Homo sapiens: one gene and its partner. The protein of the gene in region 1 purifies or fractionates together with the protein of each later gene. This does not show direct contact. Each region holds a gene or a part of one and is shown on either strand. Other genes may lie near its edges. The genes, in order: G2E3 and SPECC1L.

What was found.
Region 2: the proteins of G2E3 (region 1) and SPECC1L purify together in Homo sapiens (affinity purification with mass spectrometry; 2 studies listed by BioGRID and IntAct, with this or other methods). This does not show direct contact.

What each region holds. Positions count from the first base shown.
Region 1 is NC_000014.9:30,549,657-30,565,580, reverse strand, and holds the start of G2E3 (G2/M phase-specific E3 ubiquitin-protein ligase), read right to left. Parts: upstream 6,424-15,924; 5' UTR 6,309-6,423; intron 4,845-6,308; exon of another isoform or gene 4,746-4,844; intron 1-4,745. UniProt on the Homo sapiens protein: E3 ubiquitin-protein ligase which accepts ubiquitin from an E2 ubiquitin-conjugating enzyme in the form of a thioester and then directly transfers the ubiquitin to targeted substrates. Essential in early embryonic development to prevent apoptotic death.
Region 2 is NC_000022.11:24,273,638-24,289,156, forward strand, and holds part of SPECC1L (cytospin-A), read left to right. Parts: intron 1-3,062; 5' UTR 3,063-3,166; intron 3,167-15,519. UniProt on the Homo sapiens protein: Involved in cytokinesis and spindle organization. May play a role in actin cytoskeleton organization and microtubule stabilization and hence required for proper cell adhesion and migration.

The DNA of each region.
Region 1 (15,924 bases):
TAAAAGACAGAACTATAAATCTCTTAAATGAAAATCTAGGGGTAAATTTTCATGACCTTGTATTTGGCAATGGTTTCTGAGATATGACACCAAAAGCACAAGCAACAAGAAAAAAATAAATTGAACTTTACCAAAGTATAAAACTTGTGCATCTAATGACAATCTACAGAATGGGAAAAAATATTCAGAAATCATATAACCTGAAAAGGGTCTAGTATCTAGAATACATTAGAAACTCTTACAATGCAACAACAAAAAGACAAGTAATCCAACTTAAAAATGAACAAAATATCTGAAGACATTTCTCCAAAGAAAATATTCAAATGGCCAACAGCACATGAAAAAATGCTCATTATATTAGTGATAAGTAAATCAAAGCCACAATGAGACACCACTTCATGTCCACTATAATAGCTATAATAATAATTTTTACAAACTAAAATAGTAAGTGTTAATGATGATATGGAGAAATTAGAACCCTTACATATTGCTAGTGGGAAAGTAAAATGATGCAAGGGTGGAAAACAGTTTGGCAATTCCACAACACATTAAACAAGACTACCATATCACCCAGCAATTCCACTAGCTATGTAACCAAAACAATTGAAATATTTCAGTTCAAACAAAAACTTGCATACATATGTTCACAGCAGCACTATTCACAAAAGAGATCACTAAATCAATACATTACAAAGAAACAACCTAATTATACATCAATTGATGAATGGATATACAAAATGTGGTATATCCATAGAATGATTATGTGGCAATAAAAAGGAATAAAGTACTGAAACATGCTACAACATAGATAACCTTGAAAACATTATATTAAATGAGGGAAGTCAGACATAAAAGGTTACATGTTTTGGAACTAGGTAGAGGTGATGGTTGCACAACATCGTGAATGTACTGTCACTGAAATGTCTACTTTAAAATGGCTAATTTTTGACTGGGCATGGTGGCTCACACCTGTAATTCCAGCACTTTGGGAGGCTGAGGTGGAAGGATCGCTTGAGGCTAGGTGTTTGCAACCAGCCTGGACAACATGGTGATATCCTGTCTCTATAAAAAAAATTTTTAATTAGCCAGTCTTGGTGGCAAATGCCTGTAGTCCTAGCTGCCTGGGAAGCTGAGGTGGGAGGACAGCTGGAGTCCAAGAGTTGGAGGCTGCAGTGAACTATGATTGTGCCACTGAGCTCCAGCTTTGGGTGACAGAGATCTTGTCTCAAATAAAATGGCTAATTTTATAAATGGGAATTTTACCTCAAAAAAAGGTCAAATGTACACCTATCATATGATGCAGCCAAGAGAAATAAGGCATATGTCCATTGTACACAAAGGTCAACAGAAACTTTATTTGTGATAACTAAAAACTGTAACAATGTATATGGATAAAACAAACTGTGGTATATTCATACAAGAGAATACATTTACTAAAACTCATTGAACTATACCCCTAAAATGGGTGACTTTTATTGCATACAAATTGTATACCAGATACTTGTTTAAAAGTTAACAATTTTTATTTAAAACAAAAGGATAAGTTTAAGATAAAAAGCAATGGCTGGGCGCGGTGGCTCACGCCTGTAATCCCAGGACTTTGGGAGGCTGAAGCGGGCAGATCCCTTGAGGTCAGGAATTTGAGACAAGCCTGACCAACATGGCGAAACCCTGTCTCTACTAAAATCACAAAAATTAGCCGGGCGTGGTGGCAGGTGCCTGTAATCCAGCTACTCAGGAGGTTGAGGCAGGAGAATCACTGGAACCGGGAAGGCGGAGGTTGCAGTGAGTCAAGATCCCACCATTGCATTCAGCCTGGGCAACAGAGTGAGACTCTATATCACACACACACACACACACACACACACACACACACACACACACAAAAGTAACAAAGTTACAAGTTTACATTAAGTTATCAATATATAACTAGTCCCCAGGAAACAGATGTCATCCTCCCCTACCCCACCCCACCCTACCACCCATTGGCTCCATATGTCCATTTTCATGTTTCTTCATGATTCCACTGTCATAGCAACACATAAGACCTTTCCAGCTTGGCTTCCAATAGTCTTGTGATATCCCAACTCCAAAATCAAGAAATCACATGAATGGTCTAGCCTGCATCAGATATGCAGCTCTGATATAAATACCTGTACCAGTTTTGTTGGGGAAGTGGTATGGGACTTTAAGTGGTATGGGGCTTTATGTCCCTTAGACCAACCCTACCTACTGGTCATGAGAATGATGTCCCTACATTGTTGGGCAGGTTTTTAAAGAAAAGCTGTGGGCAAGATTAGGCAACTGTCTTAAGTGATCAAACGGAAAAAGAAAAGTTTTGTTTTTTAATTCCCTAACATTTTGAATTAAGATACTTTTTATTACATCTAACATACCACTCATAATTAAAAAAAAAAAAAACTGTACCAAGAGTGTAGGGACCAGCCCCACAGGATCGGTGGGTTTTTCTCCCCGTGTGCGGAGACGAGAGATTGTAGAAATAAAGACACAAGACAAAGAGATAAAAGAAAAGACAGCTGGGCCCGGGGGACCACTATCACCAAGACACGGAGACTGGTAGTGGCCCCAAATGCCAGGCTGTGCTGATATTTATTGGATACAAGACAAAGGGGCAGTGAGCCATCTCCAATGATAGGTAAGTTCACGTGGGTCACGTGTCCACTGGACAGGGGGCCCTTCCCTGCCTGGCAGCCGAGGCAGAGAGAGAGACAGCTTACACCATTATTTCTGCATATCAAAGACTTTTAGTACTTTCCCTAATTTGCTACCGCTATCTAAAAGGCAGAGCCAGGTGTACAGGATGGAACATGAAGGCAGACGAGGAGTGTGACCATTGAAGCACAGCACCACAGGGAGACGGTTAGGCCTCCAGGTAACTGCGGGTGGGCCTGACTGGTGTCAGGCCCTCCACAAGAGGTGGAGGAGTAGAGTCTTCTCTAAACTCCCCCGGGGAAAGGGAGACTCCCTTTCCCGGTCTGCTAAGTAGCGGGTGTTTTTCCTTGACACTGACGCTATCGCTAGACCATGGTCCTCTTGGCAACGGGCGTCTTCCCAGACGCTGGTGTTACCGCTAGAACAAGGAGCCCTCTGGTGGCCCTGTCCGGGCATAACAGAAGGCTCACACTTGTCTTCTGGTCACTTCTCACTATGTCCCCTCAGCTCCTATCTCTGTATGGCCTGGTTTTTCCTAGGTTATGATTGTAGAGCGAGGATTATTATAATATTGGAATAAAGAGTAATTGCTACAAACTAATGATTAATGATATTCATATATAATCATATCTAAGATCTATATCTAGTATAACTATTCTTATTTTATTATTTTATTATACTGGAACAGCTCGTGCCCCCAGTCTCTTGCCTCGGCACCTGGGTGGCTTGCCGCCCACACAAGAGGAAATTAAATATTTTAAAAATACATTTTAAAAGCTACTAAATCTTTTGGTGCCTCAGTTTCTTCATCTTAATATAGAGATAATAAAATGGTTGTGAGGATTAAGTGAGAAAATATGTATAAAGCATTTTAAATTCATGAATATTAACAAACATTGCTCCTGATTTTTTGCCACTTGAAATGTCCTCTGAGCCTATAATTTCAATACTTATTTTTCCATAGTTTATAAACCATATGCTATCACTAAAATCTCTACTAAACTACACAGAATTATATGCTATCATCTCAGAAAAAAGCCAAGCCTTAAAAAAAAAAAAGCAACAACTTTTTGAGTCATTAACCCAAGACAAAATGTGTTAAATTGTTAAAATAATAAGTACTCACTGAACATACACAGTTTCAGAGTATCATGACACTCACTGTTCTGCACTGTGCACTGCAGACATAAAAATTAAAAGGACAAGGGCAGTCTCGCACTATATATTTATAAGCAAAAAGCACAGCCTGGAGAAGTCTTTAAACCCATTTGAGTAAAATCTTAAGGGGAAATAAAAAGGCCAATGGCTAAATATGCATAAAATGTAATAAGAGATAGATTTGGAGAATTCTAGTAGTATTGATAGAACATCAGCAGGTTGGAAGAGACTGGTGTAATATTATGAAGATGGTCCTTGGGAAGAGAAGTTGGTACCAGACTCTGAAGGGCTCTGTAAATAAAAAGCAAAGCTAAGAAATTTGAATTATATATGGTAGACAATGAGAAGCCATCAGAGATACTTATGGAGCAACATCTGGAGGGAGACTGAAGAGAGGCAAGAAATATTACTTTTTTAAAAAAGCATAAACTTTTGAGTTAAATCTAATTTCCGACTTCAGTTCCAACGTGTTACTAGTTGTGTGAGAACAAATTACCGAGCCCCTCTTAGCCTGTTTTCTTATTTGAAGATAGTAACTACCTCAGCGATATTGTAAAGATTAATGAGAGAATGTATGTGATGCGGTTTTTACAGTTTAGTAACTCAATGTAATTGGAGACTTATGTATCATTTGCTATGTGGCACACACTATTTTAAGGTCTTTGTATATATTAACTCATTCAATCCTCACAATAATCCTACAAAGTAGGTAACCTCATCATACGGTAGAGGGAAATGAAGCAGAGAGGTTAAACAGCTTGCCCAGGGTCACCTAGCTATCAAGTGGTGGAGATGGGCTTCAAACCAAGGCAATCTGGCCCCAGTTCCATGTCTTTAATCAACACATTATAATGCCTTTCTAGGAAAGATCAAATCAGTGTTTTGAAAACTCACAGTATTTTCTAACCTTTCAGTTAAATATGCAGACTGTTCAATGCCATCCTCCAGACCTACTGATTCAGAATCTGAGATCTGAAGTGCAGGAATCAGCATTGTTGAACAAATCCTTCAAGGTAGTGTATACACAATAAATTCTGAAACTCACTGATTTAAGAAAGAGCAAAAATCCAATGAAAATAATTCAGGTAGAAAAAAATAAAGAGATTAGGATATAGCGATCAATTTTTAAAAATTACCATTTGTTGACAGCACATATGAAATGAGCAGAAAGGCTTAGAGAAGTATAGCCAATGTCTCTGTTACAAAGACACTATATGAAAAATGCTCATATTTTAACTATCCTAAACACCGAGTATTTAAGTCTATTCTTCCTGGCTAACACTTAAAAGTTCAATAGCAGGAAGAATGGGGGTGCTGGAATAGCCAGCACTGGATGAAGGAATGTTTTTATTCTGATTATTATGAAGTCCTACTTTTAAAAATATATTTATACATTTAAATGGTACAATATCCTGGTGTTAAAACCTTAAAAGGAACTTAAAATATCTTTTCGTATTAAGCTACACAAAACTGACGATTTTTAATAAAGATGTAAAACTTGTACACATTTAAAGTTCCCATTTATAGTTTACATTTATGGCACACTTTTAAACCATTCCAGAAGGCATGACTTTACTACTGGGTTAGACAGAGTTCCATATTTCAGATAGTTCATCATTAAAAATTAAAAAAAAAAAAGCCCAAAACAATAAAACCCAAAGAAACAGATGCTCAAAGCATTAGTGGATTACTTCCAAAAAGACTCCATAATAACCCAGTTGGCCAATGAATGAGGGAGGCGAAAAGGCAGGGCGGTGGAACTAAACCTTATCCCTATTGTTTGCAAACTAAGACCCTAGTTAATCACCACCGCTGTTACCACAGCCGGTTTAAATAGGAGTCTCGGATTTTTGCGGTACATGAAAAATGTCAACCGTGAAAGAAAAATATCCGGGTTTTAAATACAAAGGACACTCGAATTTCAGTTTAAATCCCACTCAGGCATTTCAAAGACTGTCACTTCCCTGCAGTCCAGAGTTAATCAAGGTTGCCCGGGTATCTCTCTCAGGAGGAACGCGGAGCCACGTAGAGCATCTTTTCATTCTAAACCCGCCCCAACCTTCCATCTTTCATTAAAAGAGATTTGTTTAAACGTGGCAACGCCTTCACAGTGAGATTTAACTACTGTTAAAATTTCAGCATTCGAGCCGAATTGGTGGAAATAATAAACTACGGGTTTAAAAAAAGCCACGGAGGATGCGTATAAACAAGGTTTACTCGCGGGGGACCGGCAGGGCCTCCGAATCCTCAACACTGAGAGCTGGCTGGCGTGCGCAACCGTCGAGAGCGCTGGTCCAGCAAACGCCCCCAGTGCCCCGAATTCCCTTAGTCTCCAGGCCGGGCCCCAGCACCAGACGTCCCCAAAAGCACTGCGAGGCCCCGGCTGCGACGTCCGGCCTCCTGACACCCTCTCCCACCCCACGGTCCTGCTTCTCTCTCTGGAACGTTCTGCGTCTTCCCGTTCCCCATTTACTCACCAAGGAGAGCTGGGCAGAAGTTCCAGAGCCTCAGTGCCACTTTTCCCGGCCCGCTGTACGTCGGGGCACGCCGACCGCGAGCAGCCACATTCAACGGCCCACAGGATTCAAATTCGTCCACTTCCGCTCGCAAACCCGGAAAGAGCGGTCGGCCCCGCCCTCGAGGGGTGGGACCCGCGGAGGCGCTGGCTGTGGGGAAGGGCCCGTGTGCTCCCGCCCTTCTGGCGCTCCTGCGCTGCTGCTCGGTGCTAACCTGGCTGTGTCGCCTTCGCTTGTTTGTTTTGTCGGGTCTCTCTCCCTATTTAGGAGCTCAGAAAAACTCCGGGCGCGGGGTCATTGTTTCCGCCTATTTGCTCTTGAGGGGATCCTCTTTTTTCCAAAATGGACAGAGATGTGCTGAAGTTTCGTCACCTTCGAGGAATGGGGCGAATGAAAGCACGAACGGAGGCAGGAGGGTTTTATCTTTCCCTTCATCCTCGAGGAAACAGCAGCAGCAGCAAGAAGGAAAAAAACAAACCCTCCAAGTACTTAGTGCAGCCTTTCCTGGGCCTCTCAGTCCTATCCCGGCACAGTCAGGGCTTTTAATTTATTTCTGTCCTGGGTTTAGGGAAAACAAAAAGCCAAGTTCACCCGTATTCAGCCAAAAGTTGAAAATAAGTGGTCGGACCAATTCCTGGTCTCAAATAAACTATTTGATGGTGTTAGAAGGCAATAAATTTTATTTCCCCCCTCAGATAAGGGCTCACTTTACGAGATTATTAAGTATTGTCCCGTGAGATTATTGAAACAACAGTATCTTTTCCTTTATCGAGGACCACAGTATGTCTTTGATCCAAAACGTCTTAAGCTTCTGAAGAGACATCTGGGAGCTTCCAGAAACTAAAGGAAGGACTGGAAATGCTAGGGGGTGAGGGGCGCTAAATAACTCTGACCTTTATGGCTGTGATTGATGTTGCCACCAGATCATCCTCACATCTAATAACATTGAATTACCTAAACGGATCAGTACAAACCAAACCATGACAGCATACCTTTAGCCTTTGTCAAAAATACAGTTTGAGGGCCGGGCGCGGTGGCTCACGCCTGTAATCCCAGCACTTTGGTAGGCCGAGGCGGGTGGATCACGAGGTCAGGAGATCGAGACCATCCTGGCTAACATGGTGAAACCCCGTCTCTACTAAATGTACAAAAAATTAGCTGGGCGTGATGGCAGGCGCCTGTAGTCCCAGCTACTCGGGAGGCTGAGGCAGGAGAATGGTGTGAACCCGGGAGACGGAGCTTGCAGTGAGCAGAAATTGCGCCACTGCACTCCAGCCTGGGCGACAGAGCGAGGCTCTGTCTCAAAAAAAAAAAAAAAAAAAAAAAAAAAATACAGTTTGAAAGGTTTACTAGATTTCTGAGAACCTATGCTACAGGTAATCTGACACAGGGGGTGTGTAAAGCTATTAACTGATGTACTGTTTTTAACAGTGGAAGATAGAAAATAATCTGTGTCTACAAATAAGGAAGGGGTTAAATACATGTAAGTTATGATACTTTAGCATCTGATATACTGACGCTGCGGGCACTAAAAGTAATGAAGTAGATCAGCGGGTACTGAAATGAAATACTGAAAAAGTTTAAGAAGGACTGTAGTATCCTTGTTTGAAAGTATGTGTGTGTATATGGTATACAAAGTTTTGGGATGGATACCTAAGCTGTAAACATCTCTGGGAGCGGGCTGGTAAATAAGAGTAGGAAGAGATGGAGAACTTTTACCTTTCACTTTATCACCAGTTGAATTTTTAAGATAATAAACTTTTTTTTTAATTTTGCAATTTTGTTCTTTAAGGAAGATTGCTAGAAATTGAATACATTCTAGATACAAAATCAGGTTTAATGAGCGTATAAATTTCTAATGTTTGGATAGTCTATGTCCATTCATTCATTCAACAGTTCTTTCTACAATTACATATAATGATTTGACCACACATTTTGTCATTCATGATATAGTGTATTATTTTATGTTTACATATCTAATATGACCCCGTTAAATATATTGCTCCTTGAAGTTTCTTGAAGGCAGAAACTATGTTATATATTTTCCTATGTCTTTCATAATTCTTGGCACCTTCCCACCATTCTTATCCTTCACAGGAATTAAATTCTCAAGTTGACCTGTATACAAAAGTTAAAAATGCCCTGGAAAAGCCACCCAAAAGATTATATATATATATATGATTTTCTTTATACAACTCTATGAGCAAGGTTTTGTGTTTTTTTTTTTTTTTTTCAGTTTGTCCCCTGAGTTCTCCTTGGTCAGTTCTTCTCTACAACCCTTAATTAATTCTTCAATTTCTTCCGCTAAAATGTTGTCAAAGTCATTATCACCCCGCAGCCTGGCCATCACTTGGAATAATGAGATTCAGTTCTCATCAGTGGTGGAGAGCCCTGTAAAGTCATTCACATTTTTTTCCATAAGATTAGCCAGGCTTAATTGTATTAATTGTCTAGGGTTGGTGTTCACTGAATGGACTATCTGGTTATCTGTACTAATTAAAATGTTGTTCTTTTTTTTTCACCCAGAGTGAGTATAGGTGATTTTGAATACAAACAATATTCAAGTAATGTTACAGCATTTTGTGAACAAAAAAGATCTTCAATAAATACCCACTGACTAAATCAAAGAGCCTGAGTACATACAACTTAAGGACTTCTTTGAGACGGAGTCTCTCTCTGTCGCCCAGGCTGGAATGCAGTGGCGTGATCTCTGCTCACTGCAAGCTCCGCCTCCTGAGTTTATGCCATTCTCCTGCCTCAGCCTCCCAAAGTGCTGGGATTACAGGCGTGAGCCACCGCGCCCGGCCACAATTTAAGGACTTTTGAAAGAAAATATTCATTGCAGGACGTACTTAAATCTAACAAACCTGGCCATCAGACCAGGCATTCTGAGAGCTTATAAACATTTTAAATTGAGTGAAATTGATATAAGTATTCCACTTAATACATGCTGCAAAAAATGAAGAATAAAATTAAGAATTTTATTCAGTCTCTGATAATCCCTCAGTAATGTGAACTAGCTGAGAACTGAATTCTTAGAAAATTTTAGTCATAGCTAATGTAACCTCTCTTTCCTGCTTTCCTCTTCCTATTCAATCCACATACAGCAGAAAACAAAACAAAAACACTCCTGGGACCAAGGGTCATCAATTTTACATGGAAGAAACAACATAAACTGCTTTGGCAGAAGAATTCCTATAATCTACTCTAAAAGGTTTTTACCACAACCAACATGAGTAACAGAAATGATAAAATGCGTAGAAATAAATTTTAAAGAAAATTCACAAAATCAAATTAGAATTCAATTTAATTTAAAATAATTTTTAAATTTTAAATACAGTTTTAAAGAAATTTTCTTTAAAGAAAGATATAGAACCTGCTACTTTAAAATATAATTTGAGAACATAAGTGATTTCAATGTTCATATAGGAAAATTAATATGTAAGAATTGTTAAGACATATTAGAAAAAGAAAACAGAGGTCAGGAGTAGACAATTTGTCTTACTAGAGAGTAAAAACTTACCACAAAGCTGCTACAAAGAGTAGCCAAAAAAAAAAATCAGACAAAAAATATAGTATTAGCACAAAAAAGAAAAAGAGAATCCAGAAAAATGAAACTATATAGAGAATATTAATATATTATAAAGGTGATATTTCCTTTTCAGGAAAAGGATGGGTTCATTCATAAATTAACAAGAACTGGAAATAACTGGCCAGCTATATGGAAGATATAAAGTTAGGCCTGTACCTTTTATCATATACCAAAATAAATTCTAGAAACATTAAAGATTGAAATTTTAAAAAATAAAACAAAAGTATATTGGGGAGAAGTTTAGAACGGTAACTGTGACTTTAGGGTAGAAGAGACTTCTCAAACAAGGCAGGGCCAGGTGCAGTAGCTCTTGCCTGTAATCCTCGCACTTTGAGAAAGCCAAGGCGGGAAGAGCACTTCAAGCCAGGAGTTTGAGACCAGCCTGGGCAACATAGTGAGACTGCTGGCTCTACGAAAAACAATTTTTTAAAAAATTTAGCTGGGTGTGGTGGTGTGCACCTGTAGTCCCAGCTACTCAGGAGGCTGAGGTGGGAGGATCCCTTGAGCCCAAGAGTTGGAGGTTGCAGTGAGCTGTTGCACCACTGCACTCCAGCCTGGGTGACAGAGCAAGACCGGAATCCTAGAAACCATAAAATAAAAGATGAGTATGTTTCATTATGTTAAAGTTTAAAATATTTGAACAGCAAAAGTCACCATGACACATTGAAAGATAAATGAGGGACAATGATAAAATATTTATAAAACATAGGACACTAGGTTAACAATTCTAATGTAAAAACTTTTATAATTTTTTTCAAAAAGCAATAAAAATGGGCAGAAGAAATGAACAAGTAATTCATTGAAAAGGAAATGAAAGAGGACAAGACACAGAAAATACTCAACTGTACTACCTCACTTTTGGGAATACAAATCAACCAACCAAATACCAAGTTTATTGGATTAGCAAAAATTAAAACAATTCACAATATCCCACACTGGGAGAGTGTGGTGGTAAAATGTACACTCTTTTTTTTTTTTTTTTTTTGAGACAGAGTCTTGCTCTGTCACCCAGGCTGGAGTGCAGTGGCGCGATCTTGGAGCTTGCATTTGGTATATGATAAAAGGTACAGGCCTAACTTTATATCTTCCATATAGCTGGAGTGCAGTGGCGTATCACTGCAACCTCCACCTCCCAGATTTAAGCAATTCTCCTGCCTCAGCCTCCTGAGTAGCTGGGATTACAGGCATGTGCCACCATGCCAGGCTAATTTTTGTATTTTTCTAGTAGAGATGGAGGTTTCCCCATGTTGGTCAGGCTGGTCTTGAACTCCTGACCTCGTAATCTGCCCGCCTCGGCCTCCCAAAGTGCTAGGATTACAGGCGTGAGCCACTGCGCCCGGCCAAATGTACACTCTTATCCACAGGAGCATACATTGCTACAGCTCTTGGAAAGTAACTCAGGCTTTTCTCAACTTTGGGATTCTCCTATAGAAATAAGCATGCTAGTGCTTTTTGAAGCACTACTTACAGTGGCTGCTAACTGGAAACAACTATAAAGAGGAAGATAATTGAATGAGTTAGGGTACATCCATCCTGTTAGGAGGCCATCCAAAGTTGTGTTGCTTTGCCCCCTAAACCATTGCCTCCAGAGTTAGGGCTATTGAACCCCCAAAGACATGCAAATAAGAAGGTATGGTATTCTTTAATTAGAGAAATAACAATGCTATCTTATACTGTAAAGCTGATAAACCTGGCACTCATTCTTAAATTAGCGCCCACTAGAATTAGTATACACTTTTGGACTAAATTGTCCTTTACAGGAACTCATTCCTCCTCTGTGTTAGCCATATTGAACTTCTGGTAACCCTTCCTGCCTTTCAGATGAATCAGATTTTTGTTTTACCCTCAGCCACTACCCACATTTGAAGCAAATACTTGACTCATACTTAAGGCAGATCCATCCCTGAATGTCTGTTCACTTTTCTTTTATCTTCCACCTTGAGGATAAATTTCTAGCTTTCTCTCTAGCCTGTCTCCTCAGCAATACCGATTAATATTCTGCCTGGTATCTGATAACCCCTCACTTATCTGTTGCCTTGATTAGAGACCATCCCTGAGATCTTAGAATGAAAGTTTTTAATTAAGTTTTCTGTGACTCAGAGCCCTAATAGAGTCATACTATAAGAAGTGTACTTTGAGGCCGGGTGCAGTGGCTCACACCTGCATTTTATGTGGCTCACATAAAATATGTCACAATCAGCTACTCAGAATACAGGCCACTGTAGGACTCTATTCCCAAACTTCTACTTCACTAACCTCTAACAAGAATGTAAAAGCATGAAATAGAGGTAATTCTCTTCTCTCCAGGTGACTTTATATCTTAATCATTCCTACTGTACTCATGATCTTGTTACTGCTCCCGTATTTACCTCAGGTTTGTTTTTTACTTCCTCCTTTAATGGTCTTTTTTTCTTCTTCCCCTCTCTGTGCTCACTGTCCTTATCTGTTACTTAGGCTTCCTCTATGATTCTCAGCAATATTTGAATACTTTGGAATATACTTAGTATTTCTAATTATGGCATTAATGCTACAAAATTTTCATCCCATGATTCCAAAATAAATTAGCCTATATTATCATTATTATTACTATTAATTGTTGAGACAGGATCATGTTCTGTCACTCAGGTTGCAAGTGCAGGGATATGATCATGGCTCACTGCAGTCTCAACCACCTGGGCTCAAGTGATCCTCTCATTTCAGCTTTTCAAGTAGCTGGGGCCACAGGCACGCACTGCTATGCCCAGCTAATTTTTTTTTTTTTTAATTTTTGTAGAGATGGGGGAATCTCGCTATTTTGCCCAGGCTGGTCTTGAACTCCTGGGTTCAAGTGATCCTCCTGCCTCAGCCTTCAAAAGTGCTGAGATTACGGGTGTGAACCACTGCCCCCAGCCATAGCCCATATTGTTGATCATCTCTTGTGTTGAAGACATAATGATAATATCATACGAAATAAGTACATGACCATTATTAGTGTATGACTCCATGATTAATAATAATTTGCCAAGCTTCTGCTATGCTGTCAGCAGTGCTAATATGTTTCTGAATGGAGTTGTATTCATTTTCTCAAGCAGAAAGGGCTTGATGCCTGATGCACTAAAAGCCAATATACAATGACTCTGGGCTGTTGGGAAAAGAAAAGCTTTTTGTTATATGTCAACTCACAAGAAGACAGGAGTCCAGCTCAAAGCCGTCTCTCTGTGTTGGCTTTACTTTTATTAGAAAAGGTTTAGGGGGTGATTCTGAGACTAGTAGGTGATTGGTGGAAGAAAAGGGGAGGTCTGGAAAGTCCTCAGGCACGCCCAGTTATCCCTTTGTGCCTCCTCATGGGTCACAGGTGCAAATTTAGGGGGACTTAATATGAAATGTGGTAGAAATTCAGGCTGTGACATCAACAAATTTGCTCTGCGCAAACTCCAGTTGGCCACATTGTTTCCAACAGTTCAGTTCATTGTTTCATCCAGTTTTTTAAAATCCCTCAAGTAGAGGGAGTTTCAGCTTTTCGGCAAGTTGTTTCCTTTTATTATTGACTAACCTTCAAATTCAAGAATGTCTGTTAGTTATTGGTTTCTTTAACTCTTTGGAGCACAGTTTCATTCATGTGTTTACTAATATGTTTCTTACATTCATTTGCGTGACCAGTCTTTTTATATCAATTTTTGAACTTGAATTAAGATACATTTTTGGGAAAGTATGTTGTCTGCTATCAAACAGAAGTCTTTTCTTCATTGTCTATTTACTTGGATCTTTTGATCTAAAGTGTTCATCTAACTGCTGTTCAGTCTCTTGTAAGTTAAACACACCTCCTCCTGGCAGCAGGAAGCAGCATCCAAAACAGCGAATTTCAGGTCTTTTGTTTCAGGGTTGTTTGGATAATAAGTAGCTATACAGTAACCACAGTGATTTGGATTGACATCATGCCTGCTGGGTAACTGTATGGATTTTACAAAGGACTCAAAGTTTGCTTGTAGCCAATATGAGACATGTGTTTTAATATAGGTCAAAGATGTGGTATGTTTATGTTAACATTACTCCTCTCTAAGTTGGTGTTTCAAACAAATGATTGTCTGGATTGCTTTTTAAAATTGCTGTCTTTTGGCCTGAAGTGTTTACATAGAAATCAGAGCCTCTTTACAGTTAAGAGTAACTCCAAATGCAGGAACACACATTGGTAATGCCACCCAGAATAAATCAAGTAATGAACAACATGCTTGAACTGAATCTTTAACATTCTTGGATACAATTGCTGGCAATCAAAACTGTTTTCAGTTTGTGTACTTTGATTTTTTAATCCCTCCCAGAATACTTGCGGAAAATGACTCCGCAACTGAATTGATAAAGTGACTCAGTTATAATAAGCCCAATCCTTACCTGAGTGTTTTGTTGGGGGTGAAAGAAAACTTCAAATTCTCACAAAGGTCTAGGGCACAGAATCATCACTTAGGAAGCAGGCACTTGCTCAAAGTTTAGCTTCAACACTTAGGGCCATTCTTTAGGAAACATTTTTCAAGGATAGTAAGTAGTGCAATGTTAAGAGGCGAACCTGAAAGCAAAACAGGCTGAGGTTTAAATACTAGCCGTTTTACTTACTAGCTAAGTATGAAGTACCCAATCCTTTGAGCTTCACTACACATTAATCAGATGTAAATAATAACTACCTGACAGGTTTCTTGTGAGCTCTAAGTGAGAGGACATTTAATGGTAATTATAATTAGGCAAATGGGTAAGACATACAGTTAACATCCCCTTCCTTCTCCTTTCAATGGCATCTGGCATTCCATGCCCAGTATCCTTAGGCTTGTGAGCCACTGAAAGGCACAAAGGAACTCTCCTCCCAGGTGGATCTTAGCCTCATATTCCTTTTCTCTGCCCTTCAGAACATATGATACATTCCTTAGTGACCTGCTGTCTACTTTCCACCTTGGTAGTGATTTGAGTTAATCCATGTTTATAGAAAGAGCTAATAAACTAGCTCTAATAGGTCATATTTGTAGCTGAAATAGTGAGAATTTCAGGGCAGTTTGATGTAATGTTTGCTATTTAACCCCTGTACAATTTTTTAAATTGTTTGGGTTTGCAAGTCTAGTATCTCCAAGTTGACTCACTTCTTAGGTATTGTACAGTAATAGATATTAAACTTTAGCCTTCCCACAGTGGTCATAATGGGGCAATGAGTCTTCCTGTAGGTGAGGTTAACTAATAAAAGGTATATGATTGGAAAAACATAAAAGGAACTAACATTTGTTTAATGCTTTCTACATTCAAAACACTGTGCTAAAACTAAATGTTGATTTACTTAATCTTGACAAAGTAGGTGATGAAACTAGGGCTTAATAAGATTAAATAATTTGTCCAAGGCCACAGTAGGCAGAACTGGTATTTTAACTATAGCTTGTTTGGTTGGACACAAAGCTTGTTCATTTTCCATTACAATATTTCAATTCACACACCCAGCAGAGATAGGAGCAGTGATAAGAAACCTAATATTAATCTAAAACAATTAGCTAATAGCAAAGTTTTTTTTTGTGAGAAATTTGCTTGTTCATCTATAGAACTGTAGGACGTTAGTTTAATAAAGAACCTCAGATATCATCTAGTATTAGGTAGAAGCTTTGTTAATATTAGTACAGAGACGACTTTTTAGTACTAGACTGAAGGATGAATTAGATCAACAATTTTCAAAATGTGGTTCATGAGGTCAAACTATCTTCAAAATAATACTAAGACCGTTTGCCTTTTCACTTATATTCTCTCACAAGTGTACAATAGAGTTTTCCAGAGGCTGCATGGGGTGTGATATTGCAACAGACTGAATGCAGAAACTGATATGAAAATCCAGTGATTTTCTTTTTCTTTTCTTCTTTTTTTTTTGAAATGGAGTCTCACTCTGCCACCCAGGCTGGAGTGCGGCAGCGTGATCTGAGCTCACTGCAACCTCCGCCTCCCGGGTTTCAGTGATTCTCCTGCCTCAGCCTCCCTGGTAGTTGG
Region 2 (15,519 bases), on another chromosome or scaffold:
AATATGAGTTTATTTTGAGATCATTGGTCACAGTCTACTGAGAAATCCACTGAGAAAGCTGTTAAATTTGCATGGCATTAAAGATGTTCCTATTCTGATCATTGTTAAATAGATCTTTTTTATTAGATATAATTGTTTTTGAGACAGTTTCGCTCTTGTTGCCCAGGCTGGAGTCTAATGGCATGATCTCCGCTCACCGCAACCTACGCCTCCCAGGTTCAAGCGATTCTCCTGCCTCAGCCTCCCAAGTAGGTGGGATTACAGGCATGTGCCACCACCCCTGGCTGATTTTGTATTTTTAGTAGAGACAGGGTTTTTCCATGTTGGTCAGGCTGGTCTGGAACTCCCGACCTCAGGTGATCCGCCTGCCTTGGCCTCCCAAAGTGCTGAGATTACAGGCACTAGCCACCTCACCCAGCCCCAGGAGATTTTTTTGTGTTGTGCCAACAAATAAGCCTAGGCAGGGAAATTCTTTCTGGTGGTTGGAATTGTTAGTACTGAATAGACTAGATGCGAGGTAAAGAACCCCCATGGGGTTTTCTGTCAGCTCAGAAATCATTGTGACCTCAGTCTTTTACTGTGAAATAACATGACCATTAGGAAAGTAGCCTTAAACAACGTATTTTGGGTATGTTGAGAGGGAGGGACAATTATGATCTGTTCCAAAGTGAACATAACAGATGATCCCTGTGTCTGTGAAGCCTTTAAAATTTATAGTGCTCTTCTATTAATTTCAAGTAAGATTTAGAGTTATTGTGACATACTCTTAAAAAACCTGCAGTGTATCAAAAGGCACGTTTTTAAAGCATCTTGAAATGAAATTAATAATGTAATATCTACTTCTTCAGAATAGTAGTTTTTACATTCTGAAGACTGACTGACTGCTCTCAGCCACTTCTGAGTTCTCTATTTTCAAAGAATAATTTGGTATTCCATAAAGGAAATCTGTAAATAAGAGAAGAGAGTGAATATCTTTTAACAGTGTTTTTCCTGATCTTTTCCAAACATCTTCATTGTGGTTCTGTCCTTTATTTTTTGGTTAAATCCAGAGGTTTACTTCTGCCTGTATCTTTCCAAACTATTAATCTGTTCACAATCACTTTCCCATTTAAACCCTTCAGCAGCCCCAGTACCTTCGTAATAAGGTCTCCTTAGCTTGGTATCCAGAACACTTCAATACTGGGCTTTGACCCCTGTTCTCCTTCCCCTACCTCTGTTTAGGTGCTTCACTGAGCTGCACTGAACAGCTCTTGGCCCCTTGAAATCTCTGCAGTCTCCTTGTCTCCCTCTGCTGGAATATTCTTCTCTCACTTCATCTGATCATTGCCTTCAAAACTCAGCTCATTTTCTTATTTCCTTGCCCTTTTCATGTCCCTTGTTTTCCTCCGATTAAATTAATGTTCCAAACTCAAAAGAAAAACAACTCAGCTCAGGCATCACCTTGCCTGGAAGGCTTCCCTAGTCCTCCTGCCTCCTGCAGACTTGTCTGGCACCCTGTGCATTTGGGATTTGGCACACTATGTCTCGTCTGCGGCCTCCACTGGACAATGAGACCGTAAGTGTGTGGCTTGACAGAAAGTTGTTGACTCTGCTGGGGTGCTGGTACAGTGCTGGGCACGGCAGTGTTACAGAGGAAGTGAGCCACTTAGTTTCTGCCCTTAGGAGCTTTTATTCTAGTTGCACTTGACCCTGACAGCTGTGAGACACCTCCCAGTAGTGCGTACCAACTTTTCAAAGTCTGTTTAATTGTACCTTAGTGTCTGATTCCAATTTTATTTCTTGAAGGAGGGGAGTGTCTCTAATGTCTTATTTTGGCACCCAGAGACCAGGTAGGCATCATTTTTATCCCAAATTGTGGAAGGAATGTACATTTGACACAGATCACTTCCCTTTTTTCTCTTGTACACCTTTCACCTTTTTTTTTTTTTTTTGAGTTTGATGTGTTTGGACAGTAAGGGTTTAAGAGATTAAGATTAAATTTCAACTTTGTCTATTGTGCATATAGCCTAAGGAAAACAAAAAGTTAAAGAGGAAAAATACATTGCCTCTAAAAAGAAGACTCATTATTCAACTTTTTTTATTTTTAGTTGTTTTCAGAGACTGAGTCTCACCCTATCACCCAGGCTGGAGAGGTGATCACAGCTCACCGTAGCCTTGAACTCCTGGGTTCAAGGGTTCCTCTTGCCTTAGTCTTCTCACTAGCTGAGACTGCAGGCCCGCACCAGCACACCTGGCTAATTTTACAAAAATTGTTTTTGAGAGACGTGGTCTTGCCATCTTGCCTAGGCTGGTGTGGAACTCCTGGGTTCAAGCAAACCTCCCGCCTTGGCCACCCTAAGTGTTGGGATTACAGGTGTGACCCATTGTGCCCAGCCTAAACTTTTTTTTTTCAATGCTGAGCTGTACACAGAAGAAAGTAAAGGTCTTGGTCAAGCCTAGGAAAGAAGTATGCAAAGAAACTGGTGGCAGGCTGGATGTGGGCATATTTCAGGGCTTTGGAAGGTGAAGAGGAGAGGACTGCTTGAGGCCGAGAGTTCGAGACCAGCCTGGGCGACATAACGGGACCCTGTCTGTACAGATAAACATTTTATAATTAGCCAGGTGTATGTACCCTAGAACTTAAAGTATAATAAAAAAAAATAAAATTCGCCAGGTGTGGTGGTGCGCACCTGTGGTCTCAGGTACTTGAGAGGCTGAGGCAGGGGGATCTCCTGAGTCCAGGTGTTTGAGGCTGCAGTGAGCTAGGGATCACACCACTGTTCTCCAGCCTGGGCTACGAAGCGAGACTCTGTCTCTAAAGAAAAACATACTGGTGGCATTGTCAAGATTTGTCAAGAAATAGCCATTATGCTGGACCCAGTGGTGCGCACCTGTAGTGCCAGCTTTTCAGGAGGCTGAAGTGGGAGAATCTCTTGAGCCTAGGAGTTTGAGTTCAGCTTGGGCAGCATTGCAAGAGCCCAGTCTCAAAAATATTAGGTCAATAAGGTTTATTTTAATTAAACAAGAAAAAGAAATATCTGCTAAAATTTAAAGCTATTCTATTCTTCCTCTCTCTCTTCTAGTGTTCTTGGGGAAGATCCCGACTAAGCCATTTTCCAGTGGCACCTCTTCCATCATGAGTTCCTGAGGCAGTCCGATGGGGCTACTTTATTCCAGAACAATCACAGTGAGACCTTTTCTCCCAATAAATGCCCCTTTTCTCTCCTTAATATATTCTCTTGCTTACAAAACACTGGTGTCTCCTTATCATGGTTTGGTTCTACCCCACTGGGCCCAAGAATTCTTGCCCAGGAGCAACTGAATTTTCTTCTTGCTTGCTTTTTAAAACTTTGGTGGGGTAGAGCCAATTTTAAATCTTCTGATCCATTTTTTCATTGTTTTTCTCGCCCTTCTGCATTTTCTGCAAATTCTGTTGAATCATTGCAGTTACTTAGGTTTGCTTCGTCTCCCCCATTACAAACTACTTACTGGGTTTTTCAACCCTAGTTCCCTCATTTTTATGATTTATGCTCATTTCTTTGTACACTTCGTCTTGCTCCATCTCCCAACTCATGGCCCCTGGCTTTGGATTATTGTTTTGGTCTTTTATTTTTTGTCTTCTTCTACCTCAACACTTATCTTCCTCTCCCAGTCTCCGGTACCCTATCACCAAGGTTGTCATTAACCTTTCATATTATTCCTCATTATCCATGTATTCATTTGCAAATAAGCGTATATTAACAAAATCACAGGTTTATGGAGATATAATTCACATACCTTAAAATTCAGGCTTTTAAAGTGTACCTTTCATGTGGTTTTTGGTATATTCACAAAGTTATGCATTGATCACCACCATCTGATTCCATAACATGTTCAATACCTCAAAAAGAAGTCTGTACTCATTAGTAGTCATTTCACATTCACCACTCCCTCTGGCTCTGGGCAGTCACTGATCTTTGTGTCTCTATGGATTTGCCTAGTCTAGGTATTTTTATGTAAATGGCATCATACAACATGTGACCTTTTGTTTGGCTTTTTTCATTTAGCAAAATGTTATCAAGGTCTGTCCCTGTTGTAGCATGTATTAGCACTTCATTTCTTATATGCTGAATGATATACTTTATTTGTCCATCAGTTGTTCATGCTTTATTTGTCCATCAGTTGATGAACATTTGCGTTTTTGCCACTTTGGGCTATTAAGAATAATGCTACTGTGAACAAGTGTGTACAAGTTCCTCTACAAATTTTTGTGTGGACATATCCTTTCAGTTCTCTCAGGTGTATATCTGGGAATTGAATTGCTGGGTCGTGTAGTAGCTATGTTAAACACTTTGAGAAACTGCTATAATGTTCTCCAGAGCTGTACCATTTTAAATTCTGTGTATGAGGATTCCACGTTCTCCACTTCCTCACCAGTGTATGGATTTGGGGGTATACTTTTTAAAAAGTGGGATTAGGCTGGGCACAGTGGCTCACACCTGTAATCCCAACACTTCAGGAAGCTGAGGTGGGAGGATCACTTGAGCCTAGTAGTTTGAGACCAGCCTGGGCAACATAGGGAGACCCTGTCTCTACAAAAAATAATTTAAAATAAATTAGCTGGGCGTTGTGGCACACACCTGTAGTCCCAGCTACATGGGAGGCTGAGGTGGAAGGATTCCCTGAGCCCAGAAGTTTGAGGTTGCAGTGAGCCATGATGGCAGCACTATACTGTAGCCTGGGTGTCAGAGCAAGACTCCGTTTCAGGGAAGAAAAAAAAAAGTGGGATGATATTTTTGACACTTTTCTTCTTGTTTTCTTAATTTCATACTTCTGGAAATTCCATTAAATTAGCTGGTACCACTCTAACTCATTGTGTTTCATGGCTGCATAGTAATATTGCATAATATAAATATACCATTCATTCATCAAAGTTAGCAGATATTGACTGTTAGGTGCCAGGCACTGCTCTAAGCGTTAAAGAAAAACACACAAAAACTTTTGCATTCTTAGAGTTTATTTTCCAATGGAGGGGGTGGAGGGAGGTAAGAATTTAGGAAATAAATTAATTACATATATAGCATAGGGTTTCACCAGTGAGTGCAGCTTGAATCGTTGGCAGCTTTCTTAGTAGTATAAATACAGTACTAAAGATGAAATTACTCTAAATGGTGTTACTTAAATTACTGGAATAGGTATTACTATTAGTCACTTTGCAGGTGAAAGTGGAAACACCATCGTAAAATGTAAAATAGGAAACAGCTGGTTAATGTGGATCTGGAGTTTTTCTAGGACATAAACTGATGAGCCAGAAAAGTAAATGTGTCAGTCCTTGGTAGCACAGTTTGTACGTTTATAAATTTTATCCAAATCCTCTTAATCTAGTGATTAATAGACACTCTTCACAAAAGGATGAGGGAGGTATATGTATATGTGTTGAAAGGTTCCGAAGGATGCAACCGAGAGTACTTCGGGGGACGTGGCAAAACTTCCAGGCCCATTCAAGAGTCTTGTTTTCTCCCTGAGCTTTTATGTATTTATTATATTGCCCTATTAATTATTGAGATTGTGCCTTACAGTAAAAGCTGCTTTAAATTGTTGACGCTATAATTTAAAATAATCTGGGTCACCTAGAGTGGTTAAACCTGGAAGAAAAGGATATCCTTCCTGCCAGGGCAGATTGTATGTAGATATGCAACCTGGTTGCGCCTGTGCTGACCTCTACTCTGTTGGGCCTGGAAGTATGCAGTTCAACGTTTCTCTTCTGATTTTTAAAAAAAATTTGACTTTGTTTACTTTTTATTTTATTTTAATTTAGAGACAAGGTTTCACTATTTTGCACAGGCTGGTCTCAAATTCCTGGGCTCAAGTGATCCCCTTGCCTCGGCCTCCCAAATACTGGGATTACAGGCATGAGCCACTGCACCTGGCCTTAACTTTGAAATGAAGTTAGAAATGTACATTTTATTTTTTTAATTATTATTATTATTATTTATTATTTTAGAAACAGGTCTAGCTCTGTTGCCCAGGTTGTAGGGCAACAATGGTGCAATCACAGCTCACTGCAGCCTCCACCTCCTGGGCTCAAGTGATTTTCATGCCTCAGCCTTCCGAGTAGCTGGGATTACAGGCATGTGCCACCATGCCCGGCTAATTTTTTGTATTTTTAGTAGAGACCAGGTTTCACCATGTTGCTCAGGCTGGTCTTCTGACCTCAAGTGATCTGCCCGCCTCAGCCTCCCAAAGTGCTGGGATTATAGGCGTGAGACACCACGCCCAGGTGAACAGAATAGTTTTCCATTCACCACAGTTTGTGACAGTCTCTACATTGTGAAGTGACAAGTTCTCTTCTATTTTCCTTCTGCCCCTCATCACCTTTTTCTTCCTCATTTCTTTTTTGAATTTTGCTGTCTTGAATTGATGTCTAAAGGATGACATAGCAGACAAGGGGACTGACACATGAACTCTCATGAGTTACTGAGGAGTTTCTCAGTGCTCTGTCTGCATCATCTGCTCACTCTCTCCTTCCTAGGTGCTAGCCTGCCAACCTGCTTTGAGAAATTGGAAATGAATTGGGGGGTAATCAGCCTCCCCTTGTACATGTAGGGACCGCATCTCCAATGCCTTGCTTTACATAATGACGAATGGTGTTTTGCTTACCTACTTCCACACAAACTGCTGATATGGTTAGGATTTGGGAAAGGGGAAGAAGGGAATTTTGGGTTTTGAGGAGTAGCTGGGGCTTGAACAAAGAAGAGGTAGTAATGAACATTCCTGGGGTGAGGCAATTAGTTAGCTGAGGGAGAAGAAGGCATATAATAAATTAGGGATTGACAGACTGTCTGTAAAGGGCCAGACAGTAAATGTTTTAGTCATTGAAGACCTTAAGGTCTCTGTTGCATCTAATCAACTCCATCATTGTAGTGCAAAAGTAACCACAGCCACTACAGATGTGAATGAATGTGACTATGTTTCAATAACATTTTTTTTTTTTTTTTTTTTGAGACAGTGTCACTCTGTTGCTCAGGCTGGAGGGCAGCAGTATGACCACAGCTTATTACAGCCCTGACTTCCCAGGCTCAAGTGATCCTCCCACCTCAGCCTTCCAGGTAGCTGGGACTATAGGCATTTGCCACCGCCCCCCATTAGTTTTTGTATTTTTTTGTAGAGGCGGCGTTTCACCATGTTGGCCAGGCTGGTCTTGAACTCCTGAACTTCTGGGCTCACGCTCTCCACCCTACTCGGCCACCGAAAGTGTTGGGATTACAGGCATGAGCCAGTGTCCAGCCCAAAATAGTCTTTTGATTTTTTTTCCCCCAACCATTTAAAAATGCAAAACATTCTTAGTTTTTGGGCTGAAAAAAGACAAGTGATGGGTCAGATTTGGCCCCGGATTGTGGTTTGTTTACCCCTGTTACAGAGGAACAGGAAGCAGAGAGGACTGGTTATAGGGCCTGGGAAGCCAAGCCAGGGAGTTAGACTTAAGGTAGTATGTAAGAGGAAACCATTTTTGTAATGTAATGAAAATTTTAAAGGAAGGATGTTTTGTATTTATATGTGTTCCTGGAAGCATCTGAGTTTTTATTCAAAACATGTTTTCACTATGGAAAATTTCAAACATTTACAAAGTAGAGAGAAAAATGTAGTGAAATACCAAGTGATGTATTTATCACCTACCTTCAACAATTATCAGTCCTAGGTCCTTTGCATTTCTGTGTTTTAGAATCAACTTGTCACATTCTACAAAAAAGCTCCTGGAATTTCTGTTGGGATTGTTTTGATTCTGTAGATAATTTCAGGGGAAGAATTGACTTCTTAATAAAATTGAATCTCCTAACCCATGACCATGGTATACTTCTCAATTTATTTAGTTTTTCTTTAATTTTTCTCAACAATATTTTGTAGTTTTCAGTGTACAAATCTTTCCAGTTTTTTGAAGGGATGTGGTCAGATTTACTTCTATTTCATATATTTTGATACTGTGAATTTCAACTTCCCATTATTCATTGCTAATATATAAAAATAATACTTGGTTTTTGTGTATTAATCTTGTATCCTGAGACCTTAATGTAATTCGTTTTCAAAGCTTTTTGATGGATTCCATTGGCTATTCTGTCAATGTTGTCTGTGAATAAAGACAGTTGTACTTTTTTCTTCCCACTCTGAATGCCTTTTATTTGTTTTTCCTTCCTTTACTGCACTGGCTAGAACTTCTAAGTACATAATGAATAGAAGTGTAACTGCCCAATGGGTTCACCTTGCCCATTGCCTAGACAGAGCGGAATCATCAAGACGGGAATTGTAATAGAGAAAGAGTAATTCAGGCAGAGCCTGCTGGGTGGGAGACTGGAGTTTTATGATTACTCAAATCAGTCTCCCTGAGCATTTGAGGAGCAGAGTTTTTAAGGACAGCTTGGTAGGTGGGGGGAAGCCGATGGGCCAGGAGTGCTGATTGGTCAGGGGTGAAATCAAAAGGAGTTGAAACTTTCTTCTTGAGCTGAGTCCGTTCCTGGGTGGGGGCCACAAGATCAGATGAGCCAGTTAATCGATCTGGATGGTGCCAGCTGATCCATCAAGTGCAGGGTCTGCAAAATTTCTCAAGCACTGATCTCAAGAGCAGTTTAGGGAGGGTCAGAATCTTTAGCCTTCAGCTGCGTGACTCCTAAACCATAATTTCTAATCTTGTGTCTAATGTGAGTCCTACGAAGGCAGTCTGGTGCCCAGGCAAGAAGGAGGTCTGCTTTGGGAAAGGGCTGTTACCATCTTTGTTTTAAACTATAAACTATAAGTTTCTCCCGAAGTTAGTTCAGTCTACACCCAGGAATGAGCAAGGACAACTGGGAGGTTAGAAGCAAGATGGAGTCAGTTAAGTTAGATCTCTCACTGTCTCAGTCATAATTTTGTAAAGGCAGTTTCAATCGTGGTAAAAGTGGATTTCCTTGTCTCATTTTTGATCCTATGGGGAAAATATTCAGTCTTACGTCATTCAGTATGATATTAGCTACAGGTATTTCATATATGCTGTTTGTCAGGTTTAGTAGGTTATCCTCTGTGTGGAGTTTTGTATTTTTTTAATAAGGAATGAATGTTGGGTTTTGTTTAGTGTTTTTCTGTGTGTATTGAGAAGATCATACAGCTTTTCTGTTTTAGTTTACAATGTGGTGAGTTACATTGAGTTTTGAATTTTTTTTTTTTTTTTTAAGACGGGGTCGCACCCTGTCACCCAGGCTGGAGTGCAGTGGCATAATCCCAGCTTACTGCAACCTCTGCCTCCTGGGTGCAAGCAATTCTCCTGCCGTAGCCTCCCAAATAGCTGTGATTACAGGTGTGCACCACCATGCCTGGCTAATTTTTGTATTATTAGTAGAGGCGGGGTTTCACCATGTTGGCCAGGCTGGTCTCGAACTCTTGACCTCAGGTGATCCACCCACCTCATCCTCCCAAAGTGCTGGGATTACAGGCGTGAGTCACTGTGCCTGGCCGATAACTTTGTTTTTTTTTGAGATGGGGTCTTGTACTGCTGCCCAGGCTGGAGTGCAGTAGTTCTACCTCGGCTCACTGCAAGCTCCTCTTCCTGGGTTCACACCATTCTCCTGCGTCAGCCTCAGGAGTAGCTGGGACTACTGGCGCTGGCCACCATGCCCGGCTAATTTTTTGTCTTTTTAGTAGATATGGGGTTTCACCGTGTTAGCCAGGATGGTCTCGATCTCCTGACCTGGTGATCCGCCCACCTCGGCCTCCCAAAGTGCTGGGATTACAGGCGTGAGCCACCGCGCCCAGCCTGCCTTGCCGATTTTTGAATGTTAAACTAACCTTGCATTTGTGGGATAAACCCTACTTGGTTATGATATATTATCCTTTTTTTCTAGATTGTTAGACTCAATTTGCTAAAATTTTGTTTGTAATTTTTACATTTATTTTCACGAGAGATATGGGTCTGTAGGTTTCTTTTTTTGTAATGTCTTTGTCAGATTTTGGTATCAAAGTAATGCTGGCTTCATAGAATGAGTTGAGAAATATTCTTCTCAGTTTTCTGGAAGAGTTTGTAAAGAATTTGTTTTATTTCTTCTTTAGTGGAATTCCTGAGTGAATGCATCTACGCCTGGGGTTTTCTTTGTAGGAAAGTTTTTAACTACAAATCCAATTTCTTCAATAACTATAGAGCTATTCAAGTTATTTATCACTGTTTGAGCTTCGATAGTTTGTCTTTCAAGAAATTCATTTATTTTATGATAGTTTGTCTTTCAAGAAATTCATTTATTTTATCTAGGTTCTTGAATTTACTGGCATAAAGTGGTTTCTAACAGTCTCTTATTTTCCTCTGATAGCTGTAGAATCTGTAGTGTTGTTACCCTTTCCATTCTTAATGCTGGTAATTTGTGTCCTCTCTTTTTTATGAGTGTGGCTAGAGGTTTATCAGTTTTCTTGATCCTCTCAACCCATTTTTTGTTTCATTGATCTCTGTTTTACGTTTTCTATTTCATTGATTTTTGCTTAGATGTTTATTCTTTTCTTCTCCATACTTTGTGTTTCATTGCTCTTCTTTTTCATGTTTCTTAAAGTAGGAGCTGATTTGAGTCTTTTCTTCTTTTCCAACATAGGTGTTTAGTGTTATAAATTTCCCTTTACTGCTTTAAGTTTTTAAAGGTAATTTAAGGATAGCCCACAAATTTTGATATGTTATGTTTTCATTTTAAGTTCAAAACACATTCTGATTTCCCTTTTGGTTTCTTCTTTAGTTCATAGACGTAGAAGTATGTGAGTTCCCAAGTATTTCAGAATTTTCCAGAGATATTCCATTATTTTGTAATTTAATTAATAGAGAATCTTTTATTTTATTTTATTTTATTTTATTTTGAGACAGAGTCTTGCTCTGTCGCCCAGGCTGGAGTGCAGTGGCGTGATCTCGGCTCACTGCAAGCTCTGCCTCCCGGGTTCATGCCATTCTCCTGCCTCAGCCTCCCGAGTAGCTGGGACTACAGGCACCCACTACCACATCCGGCTAATTTTTTTGTATTTTTAGTAGAGACGGGATTTCACCGCGTTAGCCAGGATGGTCTCGATCTCCTGACCTCGTGTTCTGCCTGCCTTGGCCTCTGAAAGTGCTGGGATTACATGCGTGAACCACAACACCCAGCTGAGAATCTTTAAAATTAAAAACACCACCACAATACTATTATCCCATCTTTAAAAAGCAACAGTTCAGAAAGAAGGAGGACAATTTGAAAGAATACAGAAAGGATCAGAGAGATCGGTGTCAGTCAAGAAAGCCTGATAAAAGGCCAGTGGAGTGACTCATGCAGAGTAGAGGGAGTGGATGAGAAGAGAAAGGGAGAGACACATAGTCACCAGGGACAATCAAAGGAAAAGTAAGTGTAATTTTGTAGTTGATTGAAGAGGAAGATGGAGGAAGGTAAAAGAAAGCTGTGTTGAATTAAACTCTAGAGTGATCAAAGCTGTGGTGGTTAGGATTGGAAGAGGGTGGCACACACTTAGATTGGGTGACAAAGTTTGTAGTTGTCTAGAAGAACCTCTGAAGTTTCTCTGCTTAAGTCGGAGTGGAAGCAGCCCTGGGGATTGTAGTGGAAAGGGAGAGCTATATGTCTACTAGTACTGTGACAAGATAGAAGAAAGTAAGTTTAGGATAAAGGGAAATTTGTCCTTCTGGTTGTAGTGGGAAGGAAAGGAGATGGATGCTTACTGTAATTCTGTGGGCTGAGCATTTTCCTTGTTAGTTTCCACACATCGTTTGATGTGGTTCTTATAGCATCCTATGTGTTAGCTGTTTCTACTTAAAGATGAAAGACCGAAATTTGGAGATGAGTAATATGCCCAGAGCCAGATAACTAATAAGTAGTGGAGTTGTTAGCATTTGAACGCATATTCTACCCAACCAGTCTGAGTTCTTTCCACTTGGTATGTAAATTCATGAATACAAGCCAGCAAATGTCCCAGGCTGCTCCTATTCAAAGAGCTGCCTTCTGTGTATCACGTGGTCTATGTTAAGTGTTATGATCTAAAACAATACTGCTGTTTTTTTTTTTGTTGTTTTGTTTTGTTTTTTTTGAGACGGAGTCTTGCTCTGTCGCCCAGGCTGGAGTGCAGTGTCGCGGTCTCAGCTCACTGCGACCTCCGCTTCCTGGGTTCAAGTGATTCTCCTGCCTCAGCCTTGAGTAGCTGGGATTACAGGCACCCACCACCAAGCCCGGCTAATTTTTGTATTTTTGGTAGAGACGGGGTTTCACTATGTTGGCCAGGCTAATCTTGAACTCCTGACCTCATGATCCGCCCGCCTCAGCCTCCCAAAGTTCTGGGATTACAGGCGTGAGCTACCGCGCCTGGCGCGCTGTTCTTTTTTGAAAAGAAAATCTTGATTTTGTGTTTTGAAGTCCTTAAAAGCGATTGTTTATTTAAGCTAAAATAATCAAGTTACTCATTTATTCAGTAAATCAGATTCGACAGGCAACATTCTCAGAGGCATGTATATGTGTGTAGGGCTTTGGTGATTTTTTGGTGATGTTTGTAACCTAGAATATAGTTTCGAAGGCTTAGATTTAAGACTTCCATCTGATAAAGTGGGGGTAAGCTGCAGTGAAATCTGCATGGTAGTCTATTCTTGACACTTGCTGTTAGTAGTAACCTTTTACTGAAAGTCAAAGTTTGCTTATGTCTTACAGTACTGTTCTGAAAGTTTACTTTTTAAAAATGAGAATGAAATATTGGGAAGAAACATCATAGTTATTTTACATATTCTGTTTTTTTAGTACCTGATTGGTTATGTTATATTGACATTCTCGCATGTAATTACACTTTATTGCTTGAACTTGCAATACATTGCTCCTGAGATAAAGACATAGGTGAAGCTTATCCTAAGTTGGTAACAGCAAAATTATTGTATTAATAATTGAGTCATATGGTGTGTTTCGGCATTTTAACAAGGAAGTATGGACCATGACATTTTGAATTTGAAAGGAAGTACTTTTTACTGCTTTCCTCTTTTTCTGTCTTATATCTTTGTCCTACCACTAAGAAGTGAGTAAAGTTCTAGACTCAGTTATAGGATATCTTAATAACAGGCCGTGAACTGTGTCACTGATTAACTGACCTATCTAGTAAGAGTTAGGATTTACTTCTGACATTCATGTACTTTTTGCAGTAATTCAGGCTATTCACATCATAGCTTTGCTTTTGTCTGTTTTTCAAGTAAGAGGCTGAGGCAGAAGAATCATTTGAACCCTGCAGGCAGAGGTTACAGTGAGCTGAGATCGCGCCACTGCACTCCAGCCTGGGCTACAAAGCGAGACCCTGTCTCCAAAAAAATGAAAATTAAAAATAAGTAAATGTGAATTTCAGATAAATAGTGATGACTTTTTTGGTCTAAGTATACCCTAAATGTTGTCTGGATAAAAGACACTTAGGTGAGTGCTGTGGCCAGAAAGGTAAGAGGGATGGGGGGCCAACCAACTAGAGACAAGGGAAGGTATCACTAAGGACACGGCAGTGGAGCTGAGTCCTGAAGTGATGCACGAGCAGTTATTTCTCAGGGAGGAAAGTGGTAAGGGGTTTTCAGGGGTAGGAACAGTAGGAGCCAAAGTGTGGGTATGTGAGAGTGTGTGACTATGTGTGCACGTAAAATGGAAATGAGATGGAGGGATGGGTTGGAGCCTGGATTTGAAGAAGCAGGTATCGGCGCTGGGGTATTTGGCCTGGGACAGTGAGGCATTATTTTACAGGAGAGTGGCCTGGTGGGATGTGTGCTTTAGAGTGTGGACACACAGCTGTGGCACAGAAGGATTGCTGGCAGGGGAGGGCGACAGGAGGCTGCCAGAGTTGTCCAGCTGGACTTCTTCCCTGACACAGACAGGCTGGCATAGGATTGGTGTGGTAGTGGGGATGGGAAGGAGGGAATGCCGCGAGGTCAGGAACTTCTTCCAGTCGCCAAGAGGCGTCTTGACCGTTTAAAAATGTCTCTGAAGATTTAGCACACCAAGGCCCCCTATAGTCCCAGGGTATAGGCCACCCTTGAGATTAGAAAGAAACCCCTGGGAGCTGTGGTGGGGTGGATGTGGCTGTTGGAGGTGCCCCTATTCAGACTCCTGCTCTACCATTTGCTTCGGGATCACCTTTTACAGTGGATCTGATATTATAATACCCACTTCTTATGATGTAAAGGAACTGAATGAGTGTGGAATCCCTAGGACCCCGCTGGAATATAATGGGCCCTCGGGGTTTAGTTTCTTTCCTTCTTGCCGGTGAGGTTTGAGAGGGACTGGAGAACAGTGGATTTCGACCATCCATTTGGGGTTGTCAGTCTGTGCCAGGCCAGCTGGAAACTACAAAAAGGAGGTACAGGTAAGCAATAAGGCCCTGTGGTTCATCTCAGATTTCATTCCGGGAGATCAGAGAGAGCCCTTCCTGGAACTGTATCCTTTCCTGGGGAATATGGGTGGAAATCCAAGGGCCCTGTGCATAGATTTTCCCTTCTCTTTCAGCTCTGCCAGCTGCCAGAACTGTGGCTTTCTCAGCAGATTGTCTGTACACATGAGACCTTTTTTACGGAACGATTTACAGAAAGACAAACCCTTCCTTCCAAGTTTAACCAGTCCCCTTATACCAAGGTTTCCCAGCCTTGACTGTATTGATATTTTAGGCTGTATAATTCTTTGTCGTGGGGGGCTGTCCAGTGTGTTGTAGGGAGTTTACTAGGATTCCTGGCCTCTTACACACTCACTGTCTGTAGCACCTTGCCTCCCACCCAGTTGTGACAACGAAAAATGTGTACAGGAAGTGCCAAATATCCCCTAGGGTACAAAATTGTCCCCTACCCCTCATTAAGTACCACTGCTTTATACTCACTAGACACAGGGAAAAAGAACTTCTTAGCATTTTTTATTAATTTCTTTTTAACCTAACCAGTGAAATGCTTGTTGAAAAAAAGACTTAGTTTTTACTACACTGAATTTGAATTCTATTTTAACTTATTTAGTTTAGAAAGACTTCTCAAATCCAAAATTTTAAGCTTTTTTTTTTTTTTTTTTTTTTTTTTTTTGGACATATCCTTGCTCTGTTGCCCAGGCTGGAGTGCAATGGCGTGATCTTGGCTCACTGCAACTTCTGCCTCCTGGGTTCAAGCGATTCTCCTGCCTCAGCTTCCTCAGTAGCTGGAATTACAGGTGTCTGCCACCACACTTGGCTAATTTTTGTACTTTTAGTAGAGACGGGTTTTCACCATGTTGGTCAGGCTGGTCTTGAACTCCTGACCTTGTGATCCGCCTGCCTTGGCCTCCCAAAGTGCTGGGATTACAGGCGTGAGCCATTGCTCCCAGCCAATTATAAGCTTTTTAGAAAGGATTTTTTACATTGTTATATTTGAACCATTAATGAAGTGCAAAATGAAATGTTTCATTTAGTATTTCACATCAGAGGTTGTTATAAATGTACAAATAGATTGATGTTTTGAATTAAAACTATGGCTGACAGTTAATTTTATCGATACCAAATTGTGCAAGTTTAAACTGCCTGCCAAGAGTCTGAGCATAAAGCTGTGGTTTGAAAGGATCC